Homo sapiens: one gene and its partners. The protein of the gene in region 1 interacts with the protein of each later gene in a biochemical or structural test. Each region holds a gene or a part of one and is shown in the gene's direction. Other genes may lie near its edges.

Evidence for each region.
Region 2: the proteins of DCAF11 (region 1) and CUL4B form a complex in vitro, tested with the Homo sapiens proteins (one study listed by BioGRID).
Region 3: the proteins of DCAF11 (region 1) and SLBP form a complex in vitro, tested with the Homo sapiens proteins (2 studies listed by BioGRID, with this or other methods).

Annotation. Positions count from the first base shown.
Region 1 is NC_000014.9:24,117,772-24,124,792, forward strand, and holds part of DCAF11 (DDB1- and CUL4-associated factor 11), read left to right. Parts: intron 1-283; coding exon 284-384; intron 385-616; coding exon 617-763; intron 764-978; coding exon 979-1,033; intron 1,034-1,373; coding exon 1,374-1,442; intron 1,443-1,787; coding exon 1,788-1,845; intron 1,846-1,939; coding exon 1,940-2,125; intron 2,126-3,066; coding exon 3,067-3,220; intron 3,221-3,593; coding exon 3,594-3,746; intron 3,747-5,199; coding exon 5,200-5,306; intron 5,307-5,403; coding exon 5,404-5,538; 3' UTR 5,539-7,021. UniProt on the Homo sapiens protein: May function as a substrate receptor for CUL4-DDB1 E3 ubiquitin-protein ligase complex.
Region 2 is NC_000023.11:120,550,942-120,557,962, reverse strand, and holds part of CUL4B (cullin-4B), read left to right. Parts: coding exon 1-39; intron 40-7,021.
Region 3 is NC_000004.12:1,709,299-1,716,598, reverse strand, and holds the start of SLBP (histone RNA hairpin-binding protein), read left to right. Parts: upstream 1-4,279; 5' UTR 4,280-4,410; coding exon 4,411-4,469; intron 4,470-4,608; coding exon 4,609-4,725; intron 4,726-7,300. UniProt on the Homo sapiens protein: RNA-binding protein involved in the histone pre-mRNA processing.

The DNA of each region.
Region 1 (7,021 bases):
TAGGTCTTATCTCCTAAACTTTGAAGGGGTAGGTGTTAAAGGAGCCTCAGAGATATTAAAGGTTAGGTTAAATGGGGTTGAAACTTTGAGAGTAAACAAAGTAGAAAAGTGTAGAAAATTGTAGAAATTTAGAGGATGGTGGAATGGTTGAAAGACGGGATTGCACTCACAGCCAAAAGGGAAGAATGACTGTTCTGATATTCCAGCTCTGTTAGGATTCTGCTGATTGGGACACTCCTTATCCTGAGCACCCCTCACCCTCACTTTCTCTCTCCTTCCCTAGCTTCTTGCCCAATGATCTGGGCTTCACTGATAGCTACTCTCAGAAGGCTTTCTGTGGCATCTACAGCAAAGATGGTCAAATATTCATGTCTGCTTGCCAAGGTACCAGACCCTGGTCCTATAAACTATCTTTTCCTGGAACATGGGACATTCCCCCTGACTGAGGCTAGAAAGCCACAGACGGGGAGCTCAGACCTGGCTTAAGGATGCTTAGCCAGACCATGTTTCCCATGATAAAGGGAAGACTCCACAGGTACACTGAGTGGGAGATGTCTAATCTAGAAAAGTTACAAGGAAACTGTCCCATAATTCTGCCTGATCTTTACTTACACAGACCAGACAATCCGACTCTATGACTGCCGATATGGCCGTTTCCGTAAATTCAAGAGCATCAAGGCCCGCGACGTAGGCTGGAGCGTCTTGGATGTGGCCTTCACCCCTGATGGGAACCACTTCCTCTACTCTAGCTGGTCTGATTACAGTGAGTATGCACCAGGCTTCCACTGACTCTCCAGCCTGGGACCTGAGGTTTCCATGTGCCTGTCCCCTCTGAGCCAGGATCCCTCACTTTGTCCTGGGAAAATCACTCCCAAAGTGCTCCAGTACCCTTGTCCCCTGTTTGATCTCTTCCCTAGCTTCACTTCCACTCTTCTTCCCCCATCCCTGAAAGATTCTTGTTTTTCTTGCTTCTCTTAGTTCATATCTGCAATATCTATGGTGAGGGAGATACACACACTGCCCTGGATCTCAGGTACTGGCTTCCCTTTCTGGTCAGACTCATCAGAAACTTCTCAAGGGAAGCTCTTTGGGAGCAAACCTCTTGAGTTGGAAGTTCTGTTTAGGGGAAAAAGTATACTGGTGGGTCTGTGTGCATTCCTGGGAGGGAAGCACCATCTTGTCAGCCAGAGGACTGGGTAAAATAGATGGTTGCAGGATGATTTCTGGGTTCTCACTGAGCATCTGCATTATGGTGCATGTTAGCCAGACTTCTTTTTTCCCCTGGGGATGTGCCTTACAACCGTTGTCAGATTTTATGTAGATTAACAAAAGCTGAAGGAAGTCCACTTAACCCAGCTCCTTCTTGCTTTTAGGCCAGATGAGCGTCGCTTTGCTGTCTTCTCCATTGCTGTCTCCTCAGATGGACGAGAAGTACTAGGAGGGTAAGTGCTTGTGGGGTATGTTTCCCTCAATAACAAGATGGGGGTTCTGCCAGAGATGAGTTCTGCTGTTACACAGATGGCACTGGCAGCTGCAGAGAACAACCAGACCTTCTCCCAAGGTCAGGATTTACAAGTTGCTTCACCCCTTGCTCTCCATTTCCCCAGCACGAGATTGGAGGTGTCAAGCCTCCTTGAAACACAGCTAACTCTTCCCCCACTTCCTGTATAAAAAGAGCAAAGGGCTTGACCCAGAGCAGGATTTCTCAGTGGAACTCTCTAGAGCATATACCACGTTGGTCCTCTCGATCATGGCTCCAGGACCCTCCTTTATCCCTTCCCTTTCAGGGCCAATGATGGCTGCCTGTATGTCTTTGACCGAGAACAGAACCGGCGCACCCTTCAGGTATGGCTCCTGAGATAGAGCCTCTGCCTCCTGGTTTTTGGCTTTTTATAAGACCTAGAAAGAGGTCTTATATCCTGGCCTCCTTTTCGCCTAGATTGAGTCCCATGAGGATGATGTGAATGCAGTGGCCTTTGCTGATATAAGCTCCCAAATCCTGTTCTCTGGGGGAGATGATGCCATCTGCAAAGTGTGGGATCGACGCACCATGCGGGAGGATGACCCCAAGCCTGTGGGTGCACTGGCTGGACACCAGGATGGCATCACCTTCATTGACAGCAAGGTGGGCCAGAAGTCAGGACTGTACAGCCAGGCCGCTAAGGTTCTAGTTGCCCAGGAGGGCATGAAAGCGGACTGGTGTGGGAATTTGACAAGCTCCTTATTAACCAAGGTTTGTAAGAGTTGGAGTTTAGGGAAGGGGCTCAAGCCAGGGAACATGAATTCCATCTGTACTCACCAGTCCTCAAGGAGCAGGGCAGGGCTTTCCGTACAAGAAAAATGGAAGACCGGTCAGGTACAGCGGCTCACACCTGTAATCCTAGCACTTTGGGAGGCTGAGGTGGGAGGATCACTTGAGCTCAGGCGTTCCAGACCAGCCTGTGAAACCTAGCGAGACCTCATCTCTATTTATTTAAAAAAAAAAACAAAAAAAAAAAACTAAGGCCAGATGCCGTGGCTCATGCCTGTAATCCCAGCACTTTGGGAGGCCGAGGCGGGCAGATCACGAGGTCAGGAGATCGAGACCATCCTGGCTAACATGGTGAAACCCCGTCTCTACTAAACATACAAAAAAATTAGCTGGGTGTGGTGGCAGTCGCCTGTAGTCCCATCTACTCAAGAGGCTGAGGCAGGAGAATGGCGTGAACCCGGGAGGCGGAGCTTGCAGTGAGCCGAGATCACCCCACTACACTCCAGCCTGGGTGACAGAGCAAGACTCCATCTCAAAAAAAAATTAGTTAATTAAAAATTAAAAAAAGAAAAATGGAAGACAATCTGATTAAGGCTAGAATAGGAAAGCCGGCCAGTAGCCTGGGCAAGGAAAGGAAAACCTAGCCAGGTGGTAGGATCTGAGGCAGAACGCTGGAAATGAGTTCACCTGGATGAAGAGAGGCAAGTAAAGCCAGAGGCCAGAGTTCTTCTGCTCAACTAGAGAACGGGAACTAGACTGACAGGCGCCGACATTTGCAAGCTCTGATGCTTCACTATCCACCTTTGGATTCATAGGGTGATGCCCGGTATCTGATCTCCAACTCTAAAGACCAGACCATCAAACTCTGGGATATCCGACGCTTTTCCAGCCGGGAAGGCATGGAAGCTTCACGCCAGGCTGCCACACAGCAAAACTGGGACTATCGGTGGCAGCAAGTGCCCAAAAAAGGTGAGACTGGAAGTACAGGCACAGTGGATTTGTCTGTAGCCTGGGAGCCCTGGAGGACCTCCCCCTCAGCCCTCTTTGCCAGGCATTAACTCTTTATTTGCTAAATCATGGATGGAATGGCCAGAGGTTCCTAGGATTGGGGCCTGGGTGGGGGTCACTCAGAATCAACCAATATAAAAGTATGTGAGTGTAATGATTAACCGGCAGGGCCATATTGGAGACTGTCCACTGACTATTAGGTGGAGAAAGAGCCACCACTTGAAGATTGGAAAGGCATTTGTCTCTGGGCATCGAACCTTGCTCAGGACTGGTGGTACGAAACAATCCCAAAGCAGATTTCCTAACCTAGGGTTTACTCTGCATCCCTACCCAGCCTGGCGGAAGCTGAAGCTCCCAGGGGACAGCTCCTTGATGACCTACCGGGGCCACGGAGTGCTGCACACCCTCATCCGCTGCCGGTTCTCCCCCATTCATAGCACTGGCCAGCAGTTCATCTACAGTGGCTGCTCCACTGGCAAAGTGGTTGGTAAGGATTGTGTCAGAACAGGGGGCCTCAGGAAGGGCAGGAATGACTCCTTGCCATTCCACCTATAACGACTAGTGACCACCTTAAAAAGCCCAGTGACAGCTACAGGTAAAATCAAACTTAGCTTGGAGGCTTAAACAGAGAAATAGAAACCATTCTATTTTTCAGTGTTTTAAATTAAGAAAAGGAACATAGAATTCTAGACAGTAAATATAATAGATTGCCAAAAATATAGTTGGTTCTGTTTTTCAGCCAGTCAAGAAAGAGGTTGCAGATGAAAGGTAGGAGGGAACAGAGACAAAATGACACAGGAAGATGGTAGCAAGTAGTTAAGGGACATGCAGTCGCTAAAGCAGAAAAGCATAGAAAGAAATAAGCTGGCTGCAGTGGCTCATGCCTGTAACCCCAGGGCTTTGGGAGGCCAATGAGGGCAGATCACTTGAGCCCAGGAGTTTGAGACCAGCCAGGGCAACATGGAGAAACCTTGTCTCTACAAAAAATGGCTGGACATGGTGGCACAGGCCTGTAGTCCCAGCTACTTGGGAGGCTAGGGTGGGAGAATCACCTGAGCCCGAGACTGCAGTGAGCCATGATTGTGCCACCGCACTTCAGCCTGGGTGACAGAGTGAGAAACTGTCTCAAAAAAAAAAAAAAAAAGGTCGGGCACGGTGGCTCATGCCTGTAATCCCAGCACCGTGGGAGGCCGAGGCGGGCAGATCACCTGATGTCAGGGGTTTGAGACCAGCCTGGCCAACATGGTGAAGCCCCATCTCTATTAAAAACACAAAAATTAGCCAGGCATGGTGGCAGGCGCTGGTAATCACAAGCTACTTGGGAGGCTGAGGCAGGAGAATCGCTTGAGCCCAGGAGGCTGAGGCAGGAGAATCGCTTGAACCCGGGAGGCAGAGGTTGCAGTGAGCCAAGATCGCGCCACGGCACTCTAGCCTGGGCAACAAGAGCGAGACTCCATCTCAAAAAAAAAAAAAAAAGAAAAAGAAAAAAAAAACCAGAAGCACAGCTGCAGATACAAGGAGCCTAAGGCAGTGCTGTCCCTAGAGAGACACTCACAGTCCCATGACAAAAGAAAGATGCACCCTGTCCAGATAAGGTGCAGCAGGTGCACACACCCCCAGACAGCTCATTGTTCACTTTTGTGGTGCCTTCCATATCTTACTAAAATCTTCAAAGCCAGTGCATTTCCTTAACTGTAGCCCCTATGAAATTTAGCTAAGGGCCAGACATACCCACACCACTAAACCATACCCTCAACCCAAGGTATGGAAAGGAACAGGGATAGAAGCAGAAATAACACAGTCTTCTGGTGTGGGCTTTGCTCCCATGGGAACATGGGAAGTTGCCTGAGAGGCAGGTCAGTGGTGCTACTCATGGGGAGGTGAGGGATAGTTTAGATGTCTTGTGGTGGTCCCTCTCCACTCTTGCCTGTCCTGGACAGTGTACGACCTTCTAAGTGGCCACATTGTGAAGAAGCTGACCAACCACAAGGCCTGTGTGCGTGACGTCAGTTGGCACCCCTTTGAAGAGAAGATTGTCAGCAGTTCGGTGAGGTTGCAAGGGTTGAGGGTGCTGGCACATGTCTGGGGCTTGGACTTGGGTGGGGGCAGCACATCCTGACTGCTTGCCACCCTCTGCCCTGCAGTGGGACGGGAACCTGCGTCTGTGGCAGTACCGCCAGGCTGAGTACTTCCAGGATGACATGCCAGAATCTGAGGAATGTGCCAGCGCCCCTGCCCCAGTGCCCCAATCCTCTACACCCTTTTCCTCACCCCAGTAGATCCAACCTCCAGCCCCATATAGGGTGAACCTCTTGATAAGCTCTCTGCCTCCTCCTCCCTTTCTCCCTTGTGGGGAATGTTTGGAGGAATCACTGGCATTTGATGGGGAATAACATAAGCCTGGGCTCTGAGCCTCAGCTGAGCCCTGGAAGATTCTCCCCATGGGGCAGAGTGGTCTCCTTACGTGCTCACACCCAGTCAGCTTGGGTCCCTATCTCTGGCCAGAGTTTGGCAGGACTGCCATTATCTGGGGTGTGGCCTCTGCCAGCAAGAGAAGTGTCCTGGGTGTTTTTAATCATGTTTGAATGTTAGGGGTTGGATCCTAGAGTAGATGCCTGAGGCCACATCTGAACAGACCTGTCAGCCAGGCCTGCCAGGTCTTCACGTTGAGGATTCAACTGGCCAATCACAGGACAGGTGTCCTGGCCTTTCTTCCTGAGGTCTCTAGGGGAGGGGCATGGGTAAGGGTGTTTCCTCAGCACCCTCCTGGGGTGGGGATTATGTCTGCTGTCATGTCTGGGTCTTTAGGGTAGGACAGGCTGTGGTATGAGAGGCAGGAGTCTCCACAAGGCTTCATGTGGCCCCTTATAGGGCAGGCCCTGCCCTCTGGGAAGGTCCCTTCATGCTGGAGGCACACAGCTTTAAGGAAGTAGGTTGAAGTAGGACTCCTTCGTCCTCTCACTGGCTTTGGCTCCCTCAATAAACTGTGTGGGAACCTGGCTCAGTGTCTGTCTCTCTCTCTCACTCTCTGTTTTTCCTATCTGAGGTCTTTCATCTCCTCACTTCAGGAAAACACAGTTCAGCAAAGTCTTCAGATGCGATCCTGTGTAGGAGAAAATACCCTTCTGGTGCCCCATGAAAAAGGGAAATACCAAAACCATTTGTTCACTGAGCCTTGCAATAGGTGCTCCCTTACCAATTTCAGAAGCTTCCCTGCAAGTAGATATCGAGAGAGCACACTTTCCATTAGAGCCTGGTAATACCCATATCACCTCTGCTCTGAGGCTGGGCCTGCAGCTGTGTAGTCTTTGGAAGAGGTAGCCCCTGAACGCAGAGCCTAAGAGAAGCAAGTCGGCCCTGACGCCAGGCCCCAGTGGGCGCCTCACACTCAGAACCTCATACCCCAGAGCAAACCGATGGTCAGGGAGAGGGCTAGAGCTCACACCCAGCTCGGAATAGATCTTCCCTGATGACATTTCATGCCCTCTAAGGCAGTTTTTAAATGAAGGTACACACATCCAGGGGTGTTCACAGGCTTTCACAGCAAGGGTACCTATTTCATGGCAAAATAGGCAGTTTTAAAAGAATAAACAAGCTAGGTGTGGTGGCTCATGCCTGTAATCCTAGCACTTTGGGAAGCCAAAGCTGATGGATCGCTTGAGCCCAGGAGTTTGAGACCAGCCTGGGCAACATGGCAAAACCCCATCTCTACAAAAAATACAAAAAGTAGGCCGGGCACGGTGGTTCACACCTGTAATCCCG
Region 2 (7,021 bases), on another chromosome or scaffold:
AGTACTTCAATTAAGTACAATTTAGAAGAACTCTACCAGGTATGTATTAATATGCATAACCAGATTTGATTAACATAAATTGAGGTGGGATGTATATGGATTTTGCTTTCTGAAATAGGTTCTTAAGTAGACTTTTGGTTCCCTTCTAATTTTAGTTTCTCCATTAATTGATGAACTCTATAATTAGACCACGTATTCTCACATAAACCATGGGTACAGTCATACCAGTATAAGTTGTGCTTATATTTGACCCTCCTGATAAGAAATTACAGTTACGTGTACCTTGGTGTAATAGAAGTTCTACCTATAATGTAATCCTATAGCATGAATCCCAAAGATGATTTCTGGTGACATGTCATTCTATTGTGATAATTGTTTCTTAGTTGTGTTACCTACCCATAGGAAAGGCCTCAAGACATGCAGATATTATTCATATCCTTTATTCTACCTCCTTCTTAATAGTAGACTTTGCCATTTCTTTTTCTTGCTCTTTACATTTTTCTAATACCTGGGCTACAAGACGCACCTTAGCCCAGAAATGAGTAGCAGTTTGTAGTCCAGCAGCTTAGTCTGAGGTTCAGATTCTTTACTTAGCAAATGGGTCCTTACACTTAAATATAATTTTAAGGGCAGTTCCTAAGGGCAATCCCTTGCTACCAAGAAATTTTTCCCTACTGTGTATTTGACACACAACCAATTCAAGAAGTTACTTTCATTAGAGTGTCAGGGATTTGGTGTTAAAAGATACTTCAGGCCGGGCACGGTGGCTCACACCTGTAATCCCAGCACTTTGGGAGGCCAAGGCTGGCAGATCACCTGAGGTCAGGAGTTCGAGACCAGCCTGACCAACATGGAGAAACCCCGTCTCTACTAAAAATACAAAATTAGCCAGGCAATGTGGTGCATGCCTGTAATCCCAGCTACTCAGGAGGCTGAGGCAGGAGAATCGCTTGAACCCAGGAGGTAGAGGTTGCGGTGAGCCGAGATTGCACCATTGCACTCCAGCCTGGGCAACAAGAGTGAAACTCCATCTCAAAAAAAAAAAAAAATATATATATACTTCAGAGTACAATAGCTTGAATTTTTGTATTGATGAGTACCTTGTAAGAAATTATGTTGGTTTTATTTATCAGTATTTGTATATTTTAGTTGCAGAGCTAGTATGGTGATGGGTAAACCTGGATTAGGAGTCAGAAGATGGGTTTGGGATCTAGTTTTGACTGCTGTTACCCTCATAATCTTGGGCCAGGTACTAAAGCCCTCTCAGTTTTTTTTCCTGTTTTTTTAAGAGATAGGGGTCTTGCTATGTTGCCCAGGCTGGTCTTGAACTCCAGGGCTACAGCAGTCTTGTCACCTCAACCTCCCAAGGTGCTGAGATTACAGGCATGAGCTACCAAACCCAGCCGTCACTCTCAATTTAAATTTCCTCCTCTCTAAAGTAGAGGAAATAATAGTTTGCCCTACCTGTCTCACAAGGTTGCTGATAAGAATCAAATAAGATATTTGTGGAAAACGCCTCCAGGCACTATAATCTTACAAATATAAGATGGTATCACGAGTCAAACTTTTTTACAAGCCACATTATAGCTTCTTCACTTGTAGTATGACAATTGAGATCACCAGTTTCTGTTGCTGTGAAAATTAGTACACGCAAAATACTCAAATCAGTGCACAACACATAGTAATAATGCCGTGTAACATTATAAGCATTATAATGCTATGCAAATGTCGGCTAGTAGTTGTAGTACTAAGCTATTACTTAAGAATAAGCCCATTTCATATGGCTCTTTTGGCGTATTATATATGCGTCTCTTAAAATGTACAACAATAAAAGCCAAAATATGAAACTGACTTGGAAAGGCCTTAAGAGAGCATGTGGTCCAATATTTTTTCTTTGTGGTGTCCATGACAGCCTGCAAAGGGGATTCATCTCGTATTATCTCATATAAGCATTATGGAAACCCTTTCTGGGGTACGTAGGGTAGTAGTTACTATCCCCACTTTTTTTTTTTTTTTTTTTTGAGATGGAGTCTTGCTATGTCACTCAGGCTGGAGTGCAGTGGCGTGATCTCGGCTCACTGCAACCTCCACCTCCCGGGCTCAAGTGATCCTCTTGCCTCAGCTTCCCAAGTAGGTGGAATTACAGGCGCCTGCCACCACGCCCTGCTAGTTTTTGTATTTTTAGTAGAGACAGGGTTTCACCATGTTGGCCGGGCTGATCTCGAACTCCTGACCTCAAGTGATCCACCCGCCTCCACCTCCCAAGGTGCTGGGATTACAGGTGTGAGCCACCGCGCCTGGCCTATCCCCACTTTATTGATGAGGAGACTGAGTCTCAGAGAAGTTGAATAACCTGCCCAGAGTCACATATTGGCAGAGCAGGGGCAACTCAAACTGAGATGCTGGATTTCTAGTTCATTGCACTTTTACTCCTGTACCACCTCACTAATATACCCTGGTACTTTGAATACCACTGTAGTGCAGTGTTTGAAACAATTAAATTGTTTTACTTTAGGGAAAAAGCTCTTTATAATTTTAGTAGTATTTTTATCTGTGCATGCATAAGTGGTGTTTATTTGGATAGTATATGGTGTTTATTTGGATATGCTGGTATACAGCATATTTAATTTCAATAATATTTTATATATTCCATATTTGTAACAAATGTTTATTGTGGTTATTAATTAACCCTATTTACTTTACCTTGAATATTTTTCCAGAGCTTTTGATTTGAAAATACTTTTCCTGATACATTGATTCTGTTAAATCTTTTTCTTTCAAGAGCATAGAGCTTGCATCTCTTGTTTTTGTTTTCTTGTACTTCGTAAGTTTTACCTGCTGTTGTTCAGTTGCATTTCTTTAGCCTAGTCACAAGTCTTATAACTTCACTGTTTGCATTTTTCATAATACCTTACTGCTTTTGCTATAATGAATTCAAAAGCATTGGTTTTTAGCTCTTTTACTGTTTTTGACCTTAATTTTATAAATGTTCCTTTGGATTGTTCTCAGAAAGATTATTTTGAGATGTTCAAGTTCAAACAGGAGGATAAAGGAGGTAAAGCTATTTCATATAATCTGGACTTCAGGTGCTTGTTTGATTTTGACTCATTGAAACGTAATTAGAAGTACTCTCTCAATCTACCTGAGTGGGAAATAAAAACATAAGAAAAAGTACTCTTCTAAAATTGAAATAATGTGGAAATATGTAGTTATACAAAAGTTCTCCAAACCCCTGTCCCACCCTCTTTCTCTGAGGTAAACACTTACTGGCATATATCTGCTTAGAACTTACTTCTGCATGAAAAAACATTTTGCTTTAAAGCTTTAAGTATGGAAGTCCCTAGTGTGGGTTGCATGTACTGCCTACTAAGTTTTTAATTTCTATAAAAGAACATGCTGTTCTAAGTACACTTGCAGTAAGCAAACATTGTCTTTTTAAAGTAATTTTAAATTAGAATTGGACCTGAGTTTTAAAATTATCTTTCCTTGACAACCTTGAGATCCTGTGGGTGTGAGGCAGTGATTAATGTTTTCATTTGACTGTTTTGTTTGTTTGCGTGCTTGTTTTTAATTGACTGCAAATAAGACTGATTAAATGCACTGACTTTTGAGCTGTCCAGCCTGCCTTAGGTTACAAATCTGTCACTCATCATATAACTTTGGGCGAGTTACTTCTCTAAGTCTTGGTTTCCTCATTTACAAGATGGTGAGACTAACGGCTACCTATATGGTAGGGTTTTTTAGACGTAAATGAAATATTGCAAAAAAGTAATTATCACAGTTCCTGCTATATATTGGTATGTGTCATCAATGATAGTAGATATTTGAGTCTTTAGAAAAGAAATCTTTATTTTAAAATTACATTTTATTTTAGAGCTCTGAAGCCACACGATTTTAAATTCTAAATCTACACTGGGCCAGAGCAGCTGTCTGATAAATAGATTACATTCCAAATGTGCTTCAGTAGACACCATTAGCGAAATTGAAAAAATAATAGAAAAAGACAGGAACTCTCTAGGAACAGTGTCCCTCTACGCTTAAAAAGAATGTGTCTTGTTTTCACATGTGGTATCATACAGTTGGAATTTTGGTTTTGGTGTGAGTTTTTTTACTATTAATAAGTAATATTTTAAATAGGATTATTTTCATAATCCTATTATGAGCTCATGTTCTCAACTTTTGTATGAGTAGCCGCAGTGTTTTGTTTTGTTTTGTTTAAATAGAGATATGGGGGTCTTGCTATGTTGCCCAGGCTGTTCTCGAACTCCTGGCCTCAAGCAGTCATCCCGCCTTGGCCTCCCAAAGTGCCAGGCTTACAGGCATGAACCACCATGTCTGGCCTACTACAGTGTTTAAGATCAGCTACCTTTTTTGGAGATGCTGGAAGTTTGTACAGGAGCGTGTAACATTTATCTTTCCTATAAATCTCTAGCTATTTTTAAAGTCAAGCCTAGGCCATACTTCAATTCTGATGAAAATAATTTTATTTATTATTAATAATGGGAACTGTAGTTACCTTTTTGTGAAATAAACCTTAAATGATGAACCTTTCTATTAACGATTCATTTATAGAGTAGATGACCACAGGACTAGAATCAAATAGTATAGGTTATTATCAATTGTAAAATCTGGTTGCTTAAGCAGTCAGTGATTATTAAGAAAGCAGTTAGATTCTTAGCATTGTTGATGACTAGCTGTTGGAGTCTGTGTAACTTTTGTCACCCTGTTGATGTCTTAAAGCTTAGTCTATTATGTATTATGTATTTCTCTTTTTACTGAATCGTTAATCAGTACTATTGTTGCTGTTTTTTAAAATGTACAACTAAAATTCTACTCTTTGTTATTTTGAAATATACAATAGATTATTAAATAATAAAAAATTTTAAAATGTGCACTTACAAATTCTTAGTCCTTGATAATTTTCAGTCTTATTTAAGTCCTGTTTACTGGAAGTAAAAAGAAAAGGAGTTTAGGTTTCATTGTATAGTTGGTTTCCTTTAAACAGATTCTTAGTTTTTGAATACTTAGAGTATCTTAGCCATATTTACTTGACATAAAAAGAGAGATAATGTAGATCTTATTGCTATATCAGTTGTTGAATTTTTTGTTATGTGCTTTACTTACTATCTGTAAACATAGCTCGAAAACTAAGACTCCACTCCTTAGACCAGTGACCAGAGTTCAACACCCTGGTGGAAATTCAGTATCTTTTTTATTGTCTGTTGTTCAGTAAATATTTGCATATGTCATTTGCTACACGTTTATATATATTTTTTGACTGTGTTTTTTTTTCAGACACTTTTTTTTAGCTCATCCTTGTGAAGAAAGACACATTTTTTATGTATCCTGTGGATTTTGGAGGGGAAGGGCTGGGATTTGGAAGAATAAGGGTTAGAAGCTTGCTAGAATGCCTGTATTTTATACCTAAGTACCTTCAAAGGATTTAAGGCAGCATATTTACTGGTAATTAGTGGGAGCTTAAATAAAAAGATAGTTTTATTAAAAAGACTTGTAAGGCTGGGTGCGGTGGCTGACGCCTGAAATCCCAACACTTTGGGAGGCCAAGGTGGGCGGATCACCTGAGGTCAGGCATTCAAGACCAGCTTGGCCAACATGGTGAAACCCAGTCTCTACCAAAAATACAAAATTCAGCCAGGTGTGGTGGCACGTGTCTGTAATCCGAGCTACTGGGAAGGCTAAGGCATGAGAATCGGTTGAACCCAGGAGGCAGAGGTTGCAGTTATCTAGAATCTGTTTATTACAAATAGTTGTTTGTGAGGCAAGAGGTTACTTCCAGAGATTCCCAAAGTGTTTTATTAGTGTAAATAATAAATACGTAATGCATAATATGTAAAAATACATAAATAATACATAATATTTAAATAAAACAATGCATAATATGTAAAAATACATAAATAATAAATACATAATATTTAAAAGAATATATTTGTAAAAGTGCTTTTCAAAGATCTAGAGTAAAATAGAGCTTATCTCAAACACCTTCTTATTCCTGTTTCCATCCCAGCATGTAATAGGATGAAGAGTACTTAGTAAACAGTCATTCCTTGTTCAATCCATGACTGCTTACTGTGTCCAAAACTGGACTGATACCTTGGGGTTATGGAAAGCACTTAGTACTAGTAAGAGAGCATAAGTACCTACCCTAAGTTACTTATGTTCTAATAGGTTCATGAAATTAATAGTTCGTGACCAGCATTTTTTAAAAAGAAATGAAATAGCAAATATCAGAATGCATCACATAGAGTAATGATGTGTAGGTTCGTGAAGATTTTATTTTAGTTACATAAATTTATGTATGATGGATTGTGACATTAGATTTCCTACTGTGGCTTTGGGTCAAAACATTTTGGAAGCCACTGTTTTACAGACACCACTCCAAATCTTGCCTAAAGGTGAGAAAAGTAGAGTACTTGGATCAAAGGATGTGTGAAAGGTTATAATCGGGTGGCCAAGGTGGCTCATGCATGTAATCCAGCACTTTGGGAGGCTGAGGTGAACAGTTCACTTGAAGTCAGGAGTTCGAGACTAGCCTGGCCAACATGGTAAAACCCCATCTCTACTAAAAATGCAAAAAAACCTAGCTGAGTGTGGCGGCGCATGCTTGTAATCCCAGCTACTTGAGAGGCTGAAACAGGAGAACCACTGGAACCTGGAGGCAGAGGTTGCACTGAGCCAAGATTGCACCCCAATCTGGGCGACAGAGCAAGACTCCATCTAAAAAAAAAAGAAAAAAGAAAAGTTATAATCAGACATGAGATGAAAGTGGTAAGATTTGCCTTGAACACCATGCTAAAAAGTATGGTGGTGGGGAAGTTAGAAAGGCTTTTATTGGGGAAGGCAAGTATTTAAGTTTTTTGAATACCTGATATATTCCTCTGGTTCAAAGCCCCGAAAGTATTGCAGAGCATGTAGTGAGAAGTCTCACTTCCACCCCATCCTCCAGTCCCCTAGTTAGTTCTCTTTGTGACAGACATTATTAGTTTTTTGGGTATCTTTCCAG
Region 3 (7,300 bases), on another chromosome or scaffold:
ACAGGTCAGAGCGCCCTCATTTGTGGGGCTGCCCCTCCGGGTTTCTCATCCTGTCCTTGGTGCCTTTTTCTGCCCAACAAGTCCAGGGAAGGCCGAGGTCTCAGACTCCTGGGTAGGGGTGGGGGTTTGAGTTGAGGACCAAAGTGCCATAGCGACATCCAGAACACAAGCCCACCAGGGGTCCAGCCCAGGCTACCCACTCCCCTAGGGTCTCCCAGGCTCAGAAGGGGATGCACGCCCCCTGTGGTCAAGCCTCTGGTGGGCGTCTTGCCCAGTTCCTGATGGTTCAAGGGGAGGGGGGATGTTGGCCAGGCCCCAGGGCACAGCCCTGACACAGGTGTGGCTACTGGAGGGGCCTTCATACCTGCGGCCCCAAAGCCCCTGGGCTTGGCTGTTTGAGGCAGAGGTGATGGACTCCGGGGGCCTGACACTTGGGATTTGGGAGGCTTCCTAGAGCGCTCAGCAGGTGAAGGCAGCAGGGGCCATGGCCGGGAGCCAGGCCTAGCTTTGAACTGAGTTTCAAGGGCTGCCAAAGAGGGGCAGTGGGTTGGGGTTGTTTTTACTACAAAATAAGTTACTTAGTTTTATAAAGACAAACCGATTGTAGCCAAATGACACCATATTTAATAAAATTTAGTCTGAAGTGATGTACTGTGTTTTGTGTTGCCCGATATTAAAACCAAACTTTTGTCATAGTTGGAGAATGGCCTGTGGGTATTGGAGAAGCCACCTTAGAGGTGGAATTGCGTGCGTGGCGTGCTTTGTTCAGAATAAGGAGGAAAAACCCATTGGTTGGGAGGCGGGTACAGTAGGAACCTTCCCCTCTGATTTCTGGTTAGGGACTCTGGGGTCTTGAGAACCCCTGACCCAGGGCCCTCTGCAGGAGCAGGGTGGGAGGGGCAGAGACACGTCCTGGGGGAAGTCACTGTGTGGTCGCCACTGCGGCTGCTTCCAGATGCAGGAACTGATGTGGGGACACATGGGTAGCCAAGGAGTGAGCAGCCTTTCCGGTTCACTTATGTTTGCAGCTGCGTCCTGTGAGGACACCAGGCTGTCTCTACTGACCTCACTGTGGGTCAGGGTGGCCCAGGAATTGCCAGCCGAGCACCTAGGGCAGCCAAGACAGCAGCCTGGGGTTCCCCACAGCACTGGGCCCTCAGGTGAGCACCCCAGCAACCGGACAGTGAGTGCTTGCTGCCTTTTCCCCATTCTGCTTCTTGACCCACAGGATGGTTCTTGGGGAAACAGTACACGTAATCCTATTGAAAGATATGACAGTGGGCTCTAGTTTCCTGCGCTACGAGTGTCTTCAGATTCTTTCCAGCCTGGTACTTTCACTGGCATTCTTTTGCATACACAGCCAGGCGCTGCTTTAACCAACAACAGAGATCCAGTGAGCATCTACTGAGGGGCTGTTATGGGCCCTGACTGTGCCAGGCCCTGTGACTCACAGGTACTTGGGACTCTTTGGCTCTGTACTGTTAACTTAGAGAAGAGTTTATTTCTTCTAAAAAGTTACAGCCTGACGAGAATCGCTTGAACCTGGATAGCAGAGATTGCAGTGAGCCGAGATCGCGTCACTACACTCCAGCCTGGGCGACAGAGTGAGACTGTCTCAAAATAAAAATAGTTAACAGCCTGCAAGATGGCCATCCCTCAGACTGGAAAGCACAGCCTCTGGCCAAGACCAGAGATGGGCACTTCAGAGGAGGAGGAGGAGGGGTTGGGGCAGGAGGTTTATGCTGAATGGGTTGGCTAAACATGCATATTCAGCAGGTGACAGGAGGAGCTATGAATATTCATGAAGGCAGTCCTGACGCATGCATCCTGAACAAACATACAATCCACATTCACTTTGGGGTGGAGACTTAACATTTAAAATGTATTATAATGAGGTTCTACACAGGCCAGAAGTGGTCCATCACTGTGGTCTCTTATCTGGACCAAGTTACTGAAATCAGTCTCTTGTCCAATGAAACTGTAGTTATGGCTGGTGGAATAGGGGCTGGGGGATCAGTCAGCATCCGGTGGAACTGCAAATTGGTTTTTATTGTTTTGAGACAGGGTCTTACTCTGTCGCCCAGGCTGGAGTGCAGTGGCGCCATCTGGGCTCACTGTAGCCTTGACCTCCCAGGTTCAAGGAATCCTCCCACTTCAGCTTCCGAGTAGCTGGGATCACAGGCACACACCACCATGGCCGGCTAATTTTTTTGATTTTTAGTAAAGATGAAGTCTTGCTATGTTGCCCAGGCTGGTCTCGAATTCCTGAGCTCAAGCGATCCTCCCACCTCAGCCTCCCAAAATGCTGGGATTACAGGTGTGAGCCACAGTGCCTAGCCTTTTTGTTTAAGTTTTTTGTAAAGATAGGGTCTCGCTGTTACCCAGGCTGGTCTTAAACTCTGGACCTGAAGCAATCCTTTTGGAGGCTTCAGCCTCCCAAAGTGTTGGGATCACAGGCATGAGCCATCATCTCGGCCACTGCACTGTTCCAATATTGCTTAGCTCAAGGCCAGTGCTTATTGAGCTACTAAGAGGAAAAGAAAAGCAGTGTGGCAGTAGGAATATAGTTTAAATGTAGGGTGTGTGACTTAACCCTTGCCTGGCATGACCTTAGGTCCTATTCATAATTTGGTATCTTATTGCCACTGGTGTCCCCTTGACCGCAAGGGGGTCCATTCAGTTGTTGGGGGCTTAGGATTTTAATTTTTTTTGAGACAGAGTTCTGCTCTTGTTGCCCAGGTTGGAGTACAGTGGTGCAATCTTAGCCCACTGCCTCCCGGGTTCAAACAATTCTCCTGCCTCAGCCACCCGAGTAGCTGGGATTACAAGCATGCGTCACCATGCCAGGCTAATTTTGTATTTTTAGTAGAGACAGGGTTTCTCCATGTTGGTCAGGCTAGTCTCGAACTCCCAACCTCAGATGATCCTCCCGCCTCGGCCTCCCAAAGTGTTGGAATTACAGGCATGAGCCACCGCGCCCTGCCAGGATTTTATTTTTAGTTTACAGTGTTGAGGGTTATGGGATGCCCAGGGCCTGGGGAGGAAGGGGACAGGATGTGTCCGTCCTAGTCTGAGGATGACTTTTTTGAGTTCAAAAGGGGGCGGTGGACGCACCAAGGCACAGTCCTGAGGGCAGCAGGTGCAAAAGTCCGGCCCTCCCAGAGGTGTAAGGCCTTAGAGGGATCCCAAGCATCCCTGGGGCTCAGCCTCCTGGACCTGACCCCACTGCCCACTCTTTTGGCTGGTTCCACTCTCCCCTGCATCCCTCACGTTGTCCCCAACAGGAAGCTGTGGGAACCTGTTCTCAGGTGTAGTGCACCCGTTGGGGTTCTAGTTGGCTGGATCCGCGGGGCCGTCAGCTGCAACTGTGACGGCGGGGAAGCGGGACGGGATGGTGCGGATCTACAGGACCTCGCCTCCAGGTGGAACCTACCTGCTGAGCCAGGGATTCTTCAGGATACAAACCCAGTCAACTCCAGGCAGAGGGTGGGAGCGTCATGCACCGGCGACACAGTGGAGGACGTCATGGACGGGCAGGGAGGCAGCGGCAACCGAAACTAGCGGCTCAGTCGGTGGCCGGTGTGCGGTCAACGGCCAGGGCAGTGGGACCGGAAAGACTCAGTGTAGTTGTCAACTGTTGCGACCTAAAAGGTTACTCCAAAACTTTAAGCGGCTCAAAACAATAGACGGCGCGTACGGGGCCTGCAGCGGCCACGGGACCGTGGGAAGCAGTCAGTACCCGCCACAGGCCGCGCCTTCCGGGTTCCGGGTTCCGGGTTCCCGCCAGGGAGGAGACACGCCCCCACCTGGGCAGGAACCAAGCAGAGCCGCGCTCCACCCAGGCCGGAACCAATGGGAGATGCGCCACGACCCAGGCCGAGAAACGTGCCGCTTACCCTTCCCCCACGACCTGCGCCGCGTCGCGCGCGGCCGAATCTCCCGCCAAAGCTGCCCCCGCCCGCCAAGGCGCGACCTATCAGCGTCGCAGAGGCCCGCGGCGGCCCGGCCGCCTCAATCCCGCGGGTGGGGGCAACCTTTTCCTCAGGCCTCTCCTCAGCCCACGGCGTCCATCTGGCTCCCGAGCCGAGGGCCGGGCAGTCGGGCTTCGCGGCTGCCCGCGGTCCCGAGGCCTCGCCCTAGCCCCAGTCGGCTCGCGAGGCGCGCACAGCTGAGTGGACCCCTGCGGCGTGGCCCGATGGTCTCGCCCGACCCGGCGCGCGCGGGAGGCCGAGGGGCGGGGCCCGGCGCCCACATAAAGGCGGTTGGGGGCGGGGCGCGCAGAGCTCGTGAGCGCCGGCGCGGGGACGCGGGTTTCTGCCTCAGGCCCTGCCCTGCTCTACTCTGCGCTCTCTGCCCGCGCCGCCGCCGCCTCAGCCTCGGCCCTGCGCTGCGCGCCCGGCCCGTGCTGCCATGGCCTGCCGCCCGCGAAGCCCGCCGAGGCATCAGAGCCGCTGCGACGGTGACGCCAGGTGAGGCCGGGCTGCGCGGCGGGCGAGGGAGCGCGTGCCCCGTGGGGCGGGGGTTGTGCGGGGCCGGGGTGTGGGAGGGCGGAGGTTGTAAGGCGGTCCCGAACCTCCCGTGCCCAGCCGACCGCGTCCCTCCCCGCAGCCCGCCGTCCCCCGCGCGATGGAGCCTGGGACGGAAGCGCAGAGCCGACGGCAGGCGCTGGAGGCCCGAAGACGCCGAGGAGGCAGAGCACCGCGGCGCCGAGCGCAGACCCGAGAGGTGGGCGCGGGACCCGGGGGTCGGGGCGCGGTGGGGCCCTTGACGAGGCCGCGGGCTCCAGGGACCTCGTCGCGCTCTCGCGGTGCCGGGATCGGTCAGGTCGGCACCCTGCGTCCTTTTATCTTGGTCTCCGCGCGGCCCGTGGACTGGGGCGGCCGCAGCAGGCCTGGGAGGCGCTGGAACACTCCGGAAGCCTCTTGCCAGGATGGGAGTCAGCTGAACCGGCGTCAGCCCGAGTTAGCCAGTTCGAGTCTGTGTTGTGCTCCCGGGAGAGGTCAGGGTCTCTGACGAGCTTCTCGTGAACACGTGGAAGTCAGGGACACCCGAGTCCCGAGGAGAAGTGAGTTGACAGGGCTTACCTGCTTGGCCATTTTCTGGGTTAGGCAGTGTGCAGGGAGGGTGGAGATGCGAGCGAAAGGAGGGCTTGATGGGGTGGGACGGCCGAGGAGGGTCTGGAGGAAATAAGCAGGGGTGCCAGTGGTCGTAGTGGCGGGGCTTTTCGGGGCTGTGGTTAGAGAAAACTTCTCGAGGGGCTTTGGGGTGGCTCGTCCCGCACTGGGGGCTTGTTGCTCCTGAGTTCCCTGAAAGGCGTGGTGACTTGGCCGAGATGGAGCAGTGAAGGTGGAGGGAAATGCGTGGTTCGGGATAGGCTTCTGAAGGCAGGACCTGTGAGACTTGCTGATGGGTTGGGGATGGGAGGCGTGAAAGGAAAAAAAAAAATCGGACCCAACTTCACTGTGCCAAAAGGAAAAAATTATGCTGAGCGCGGAATCATGCAAGAAACTACCTTTGCGTTACTTTTTTTTTTTTTTTTTTTTTTTTAAAGACAGGGTCTCACTCTGTCTCACAGGCTGGAGTGCGGTGACGCGATCTTGGCTCACTGCAGCCTCCCCCTCCCGGGTTCAAGTGATTCTCCTGCCTCAGCCTCCCCAGCAGCTAGGATTACAGGCGCATGCCACCGCGCCCGGCTAACTTTTTGTATTTGTAGTAGAGACAGGGTTTCACCATGTTGACCAGACTGGTGTCGAACTCCTGACCTCAAGTGATCCACCCACCTTGGCCACCCAAAGTGCTGGGATTACAGGTGTGAGCCACCGCGCCCGGCCACCTTTGTGTTTCTTTTTTTTTTTCTAAGCAGATACCTACAGATACAAGATTAAATATCTCCACGGGTGAACTCTGTTCACTTTAAGTGGCGACTTACTGAGCACACTAGGAATACATAATTGACTATTCCCCTACCTGCTCCTTTTCTCTTGGAACATGTAGATCTTTCTCCTTCAACCTACTTTTCTCTTTTAAATATTGAAGCCCTGACAGTCATCTCTGGAGAAAGGCACAGACCACAGACTCTTTCTGTAATTTCGTGTTCTTCTAGGTATGTCCTTAACATTAGCTAAATTCCTAAAGCAATTGAGACCTGTCTCAGACACTTTTTGGTTTACACAGGAAAGAGGCATCAAGAATGACTCAAGCCTTTAGGTCTGAACGCTGTTGATTGGGGCCATTTGCTAAGATAGAGAAGATGGGCTGGAGCAGCTAGGCATGGGAAGTTGTGAGGCTTGAGAAGCTGCTTAGAGAAGCAAAGGAGATGTCAAGAAAGGTAACGGAGTGTAGGAGTCTACATGGGAGGCATCTTCAGGCACAGTGAGTTACCAGGACATAGAGATGATATTTAGAGACTTGGGTCTAGGGGGCTGGGCGCAGTGGCTCCTGCCTGTAATCCCAGCACTTTGGGAGGCCAAGGCGGGCCCATCACCTGAGGTCAGGAGTTCGACACCAGCCTGACTAACATGGAGAAACCCCATTGTTGGGGACCAGCCTCGACACTTACCCGGAATGAGAAGAGACAGGTTAAGAGCTCATAAAGGTGGGAGCCAGGGGACCAGTTGGAAAATGGAGGCTGCAAAAGGCCCGGAGTTGCGGTCTCCACACTATTTATTGAGTACAATCACTTTAAGAAGTAGGCCGGGCGCGGTGGCTCATGCCTGTAATCCCAGCGCCTTGGCAAAAGGCGGGTGGATCACGAGGTCAGGAGATGGAGACCATCCTGGCTAACACGGTGAAAACCCGTCTCTACTAAAAATACAAAAAATTAGCCGGGCGTGGTAGCGGGCGCCTGTAGTCCCAGCTACTCAGGAGGCTGAGGCAGGAGAATGGTGTGAACCCGGGAGGCGGAGCTTGCGATGAGCCGAGATCGCCCCACTACACTCCAGCTGGGGCAATAGAGCGAGACTCCGTCTCAAAAAAAAAAAAAAAAGAAGTAGATGTTCAGGGTGAAACAGTGAAAGGGAGGCAGGCGTCATAGGCGTAATTATAGCGGTTTCAATGAATCTCCTTTGTGCTCAAACAGCATATCTAACTTATTGGAGAGTAGCTAGTGGGAGCGGGCTTAACTAGGAGCCTGCAAATCTGTCCACATTCCAGTGCTTTAAAGGAATGTCTTTCTTCTTGAACACTGTTTACAGATAAGAGAGCAGGTCTCGCTCTGAGCATGGGAACATGATGGCAATTAGGAGGCTTTCCTCCTCAGAGGCCTCTTGTGGCTTTTCACAACTTACTGTGCCATATTTTT